Linked DNA regions of Homo sapiens: region 2 is reported to be linked to region 1. The links are microRNA targets in miRTarBase. Many come from high-throughput screens and were not tested one by one. Region 1 holds a microRNA gene; the other region holds the end of a gene's coding sequence.

What was found. The annotated mature microRNA hsa-miR-3194-3p reads AGCUCUGCUGCUCACUGGCAGU and lies in region 1 at 1,517-1,538, shown strand. An mRNA with a match to its seed (bases 2 to 7 or 8) in the 3' UTR can be bound and repressed. Matches are read on the target gene's strand: a 7mer-m8 pairs with bases 2 to 8, a 7mer-A1 pairs with bases 2 to 7 and ends in A, and an 8mer does both.
Region 2: miRTarBase lists BMERB1 as a target of hsa-miR-3194-3p. Seed matches in the 3' UTR shown: 7mer-A1 at 2,217-2,223 and 7mer-A1 at 1,670-1,676.

What each region holds. Positions count from the first base shown.
Region 1 is chr20:51,451,450-51,454,449 of GRCh38, reverse strand. It overlaps MIR3194 (microRNA 3194), which reads left to right and starts at 1,473; the gene lies at 1,473-1,545. All of the region lies in intron 6 of NFATC2 (nuclear factor of activated T cells 2), which reads left to right.
Region 2 is chr16:15,586,266-15,589,265 of GRCh38, reverse strand. It overlaps BMERB1 (bMERB domain containing 1), which reads right to left. Exons shown (of 6, transcript NM_033201.3): 6 at 1,007-2,549. The coding sequence ends at 2,437. It overlaps MPV17L-BMERB1 (MPV17L-BMERB1 readthrough), which reads right to left. Exons shown (of 6, transcript NM_001414674.1): 6 at 1,007-2,549. The coding sequence ends at 2,437. Among named protein-coding and RNA genes, the nearest start is that of MIR6506, 23 kb to the left of the region's middle. RefSeq lists an enhancer at 1,681-2,182.

The DNA.
Region 1 (3,000 bases):
CCGTGCAGTTTTATACCCTGCTCTTTTTACTCAGCGTGTCTTCAGGGATTGTGATGGCCATACCATTCGCCATTGCATGAATGTGCCATTCTACATTTTAACTCTTCTAGGTCATTTTGACAGAAAATGAGATTATCTCCCACCCTCAATCCTTTTTTTAAAATTACTTTTTTACATAAGGAAGGAAATTTTTAAAACTTTTTGCTATTATCAAGAAGGGAGGCCAAACAGCACAGTGATAAAGCATGCATACTCTGGCCCTGGATATCTTGGGTTCAAATTCTGGGTTTGTTATCTGCTTGCTTGGTGATCCGAGGCATATTACCTATCCGTTAAAATTTCTTACCCCATAAAGTTGTCATGGAGGTTAAATGAGCTAATACATGTCACGTAATTATAATAGTGCCAAGTACAGCATAAGCCAATTAATATTGGCTACTTGTATTTTTATTATAAGTAGTTCTGCAGTGAATCAGCTTATACTTCTAGGATTAATTAATCTTGTACATGAATCTATATGTATATCTTTTTAGTTTATTTAGGGTTTATTCCCAGCAGTGGAATTTTGGATAGTCATTCTGAGGACTTTAAATACATATTGCTAAATTACCTTCCAGAAATCTACAAATTGAAGTTGCCATCATGTCAGTCATAGTTTCACCCCCATCCCAGAAATGCCATTTTTTTAAATTAAAAAGGAATCATTGTGGAATTGGTACTTCTTTCTACTTTGCATTTCCTTGCTCTGAGACGCATAATGTTTTGTTTATTCACCACGTGTATTCTTCCTTTGGTGTACTATCGGTGTCTTTTTCAGTGGGTATGTGGTAGAAAAGATGCTGATCTGAAGTAGGAAAATATCAGATTAAGCAATAATTAATGAAACAAATGTGTTGTTAGAAGGAAATTAGCTCAAATAACTTGGGACACTTATTTTGGATACTAGAACCAATTTTCCTTTTCCTTAACAGACATGATTTCAGTAGGTTACTTCAAAGGGGTGTTGATGTTTGTCTATTTGTTTATTGTCCTTAGAACAATCCGAGAATATAACAGGTGAGTTGTCCAGTTGGAGGGATTGTGCACTGTACAAGGGCACCTCCTCTGAGGGCTGCCATTCAAATTGGATACATCACCAGTTTACACGTTAGTAAGACAACTTCTGGCAGGGGGAAGCAGACTGTCTTAGGCAAAGAGTGCTTCTTCCAGTCTCGCACAAATCATCCTTCTGGGATGGGCTGGACATGTGACCGGGGTGTGACAACTGCATTCTCACAGTTGGAAGCATAACAAGAGGCAGAATTTATTTTAAAAGGGTTTGATGACGCCTTTGCGAAAAATAACAAAAAAGGTATTAAGTAAGGCTGTGGCAGTGGGGAAGGGAGATGCAGGGATGGGTCGGGAGTGGTTTAGAAGGCAGATGTCACTGAGGTTTGATGGGACGTAGTGGTGTAGAGAGGCATTAAGAACGCAGGTGGCAGGGCCAGCCACCAGGAGGGCTGCGTGCCACCCGGGCAGCTCTGCTGCTCACTGGCAGTGTCACCTGCGGAAACTCTCCATCATCTATCCCCTGAAAAGCAGGGACAGTGACAGTGCCTACCCACAAAGGTAAGGTCTGAATGAATTAGAGCAAGTGGGCTTAGCACCGGAAGTGCTCGGTAAGGGGCAGGGGCTGCTGCTGTTTTTCTGGAGCTGCTGTGGATGGGGAAGGGGAAGAGGTTGAGTGTCGAGATTGTTTTGTTCACGTGGTGCACTTGGCCAGCTGAGATTTAGCACACAGGAGAGGAGGTCTGTGTGGGGATGAGGTTGGGCAGGGAGGACGGGTTTCATTTTGGAAGTGGAAGCGTTGAGTCTCATGTACCCATGGGCCTTCTTGGATGAACCATGATCTCACCTCTGTGGAAAGGCAAGAGATTGGTGGGTATGTGGCCACGTGGTCTAGACTAAGAAACCAGATCCTGGCTGCAGATGTTGTCATGGGAGCTGTCAGCAATGAGATCTGAGGTGAAGTCCTGGGAATTGGCTCCGACCTCCCAGGATGGCCTCCAGTGGGAGAAGGGGAGGCTTAGAGAACTGAGAGCCACATCCCTTAAAGGTGGCAGAGGAGGAGCTGTCACAGCAGGAGGAGGAGAACCAGGGGAGTCTGGTGCCCTGGAGACCAGGGGAAGGAGACTTGGGAAGGGTCAGCAGAGGCAGTGCTATGAAGGTCACAGAGCCCGAGGTCAGCCTGAGAGTCCAGTGATTGGGGGGCCTCTGGTGATTTGAATCACACGTACCCAGGTGGCAGTGAGTTGAGGAGTGAGCTGAGGAGTAGCGTTGCTTGAGGGATCAGAGATGATGAAGGTAAAGTCTGCTCTAGGCAAGAAGACTCTGCACCAGCAGTCCCCAACCTTTTTGGCACCAGGGACCAGTTGCATGGAAGACAGTTCTTTTCAAGGGTTGGGGAGATGGGCTGATGGTTTCAGGATGATTCAAGCACATTACATTTATTGTGTACCTTATTTTTATGATTATTACATTGTAATATACAATAAAATAATTATACAACTCACCATCATGTAGAATCACTGGGAGCCCTGAGCTTGTTTTCCTGCAACTAGGTAGTCCCATCTGGGGGTTGACGGGAGACAGTAACGGATGATCAGGCATTAGACTCTCCTAAGGCGTGCACAACCTAGATCCCTGGCAAGCGCAGTTTACAGTAGGGTTCATGCTCCTGTGAGAATGTAATGGCAGGCTCATCTGACAGGAGGCAGCGCTCAGGCGGTAATGCAAGTGATGGGGAGTGGCTGTCAACACAGATGAAGCTTTGCTCTCTCGCCCGCCACCCACTTACTGCTGTGCGCCTAGTACCGGTCTGTGGTCCGGGATTGAAGACCCCTGGTCTATACCACATTTTTAGCCTCAGCATTATTGACAGTTTGGCCCAGATAATGACTTGGCAGGGGCGCTGTCCTGGGCACTGCAGGATGTTCAGCAGCATCCCTGACCTCCACCCAC
Region 2 (3,000 bases), not on the chromosome of region 1:
GAGGGCCTGTCCAACCAAAGACCTTTTGATCTACAAATTTTTTTTTTTTTTTCGAGACGAAGTCTCGCTGTGTCACCCAGGCTGGAGTGCAGTGGCGCAATCTCAGCTCAGTGTAACCTCTGCTTCCCATGTTCAAGAGATTCTCCTGCCTCAGCTTCTTGAGTAGCTGGGATTACAGGCACAAGTCACCACACCCAGCTAATTTTTGTATTTTTTGGTAGAGATGGGGTTTCTCTGTATTGGCCAGGCTGGTCGCGAACTCCTGGCCTCAAGTGATCAGCCTGCCTCTGCCTCCCGACGTGCTGGGATTACAGATGCGAGCCACCGCACCCAGCCAATTTACAAATATTTTGAAAATGCTACTTATGAATGGCCCAATAATTTTACTTCTAGGAGTTTATCTTAAGGAAAAAATAAAAAATTCAGATGAAACCTTATCCCCCTAGATGTTTATCAAGACACTATTTTTTTTTTCCAGGGGGTGCGATCTTGCTCTGTTGCCCAGGCTGGAATACAGTGGTGTGATCATGGCTCACTGCAGCTGGAACCTCCCAGGCTCCAGCAATCCTCCCACCTCCCAAGTAGCTGGGATCACAGGCCCGCGCCACCGCATATGCCCAGCTATTTGTATTTTTAGTAGAGACAGGGTTTTGCCATGTTGCCCAGGCTGGTCTCGAACTCCTGGACTCAAGCAATCCTCCCGCCTCAGCGCCTGGCCCAAGACACTTTTTTTGTTTTTTTTTGAGATGGAGTCTTGCTCTGTCACCCAGGCTGGAGTGCAATGGCACGATCTCGGCTCACCGCAACGTCTGCCTCCTGGGTTCAAGTGATTCTCCTGCCTTAGCCTCCCAAGTAGCTGGGATTACAGGCACCCATTACCATGCCTGGCTAATCCAAGACACTATTTATAAGAAAACCTAGAACCAGTCTACACATCCAATAGTGAGGAAATGATTAGATGAATTACAGTACATCCACAAGATGGATTACTAAACAGACATTGGCATGATTTATGAAGAGTGTTTAATGTTTACAAAGAGCTTTTAATGATGTGGAAGATGGTGGTATAATAAGTAGGAAAAAACTGGTTATAAATGATACCACAATATGATGTCAACGATGAAAAAATGCACAAAAAAAGACTTTTTTAAAACGTCGAAACATCAGAGTGGTCTCTAGTTGGAGGAATAATTTTTTTTTTTTTTAAGACAAACTTCTTCATACTTTTTGTACTTTTAAAATGATTTACTATGTACATGGATTACTTCCATAATCAAGAAAAAAAGTAAAAACTTTTAAAATGCTGTGAACGTGGTTTCCATTTTTATTTTCTCTGATGGGTGACTGCACATCAGCATCTTGAGTTATGCTAACTACTTAGGCTGGTCACGACACACACACACATACAGAGAAGTCACACAGGCTGTACCGGGCTGGCTGTTGCAAATGTACATGAATTACACGGGTTGAAGTTGTTTGGCAGCTAGTTAACATATGCCACCCAATGACGGGACACAATCTGGTCACACGCTGCCTCTCCTGCCTGTTGCTGTTCTTTACAAAGGTCCGTGTGTCGGGCTGGCAAAGTGGCATCCTGCTGGCATCTCTGTGGTGGCCCCGGAATGGTGGAGTGCCCAGGTCAGCATCTACTCTGGGTCCCATTCTCAACTGCTCTGGCCTTGACATCAGAGCTTCCGGTTCCCTGCTGGCTCTTCTGCACACTGGATCCATGCCAGTCCAGGCCCCCTCCAGGCACACACCTGAGGCAGACTGAGAGCACAATGGACGCTGTCCTGATGTGAACTGTGCCCAGACACAGGATGGGGGGAAGCGGGAGATGTGACCACGACACCACACACAAGCTCGATCTTTACAGATGGGCCCTCTGGGACTGCTATATGGGTGGTGCCCGAGAGACACGGGGGCCATGTGGAGCCCTCCAGGGCACAGTTGCTGGGAGAGGACAGACGGGAGGGGACCTGTGCCCATGTGCCTAGCTCTGAGAGCAGAGCTAGGAGGGTGGATGGGGAACGTGTCCGACATGGTGCTAGATTGTTGAGAAGTCACGACTACACACAGCTGGGGAGCATGCCCCTCTCCCAGTTCATTCACACGGTGGGTTAGATACAGCTAGAGAGAAGTGGAGATATGCTTTTTTGAGGGAGGACCTTTCCTGGTGTTTGGATAAACAGTGAGACAGACTCCTGGGTTCGGCATGCTCTGGGGAGGACCATGCGACGGTGAGAGACTCCCTACTGCTACACTCTGTACAGGGTGGCCAGGCCCGCCTGCCGTGCCCATGGCCTCTGGTGACAGTCACGGGCTTGCCTTCAACCCCTTCTGCCTTGGAGAGCTCTTGGGCCCCGGTGAAATGGGGGCTATAAAGACAAGAGGGTGGGGGGGGGTCCCCATGGCCCAGGGCACCCCACGTGGGGGCTACATGATGTTGCACTGGGTGGCCCCGCAACAATCCTTGATCAGTGCCAGCCCCGTCTTGGCCACCGTGGGCTTGCTAGGTGGGGGCTCTGCTTTCTTCTCTGCCCGGGAGCCTGCAGCAAGATGTGGGCACAGGGAGAGGGGGAGAAAGGAACAGAGAGAGAGAGGTGAGGTGAGCAGAGCCCTGACCATCTGCAGCCCAGCCCCACTGCAACCCCTGGCCAGGTCTTGTTCCAGGCCTTGTTCAGGTGGTATGGAGAGCTGATGCACATTTCATATGATCCTCAGCTGGTCCTCATTTTATAGTCCTCATTTTATATGGTCCTCAATGCTCAGCTTCCAACCCTAACTTTCAGCCCTTCTCCTAGTCAGCTGTTATCATCATTGTACCTGCCAAGCCTAGCACAGGGCCTGACATCCAAGAAGTATTTGGTAAATAGATAAATGGGAAATTTTGTTCAAGTCACTTCAATCTGAGGGCTCATATTTTTCAATTTTTGAAAATGCTCATACATTGTCTTTTCAGATACCTCCACCTCCCATTCTCTGTTTTATCTCCTAGAA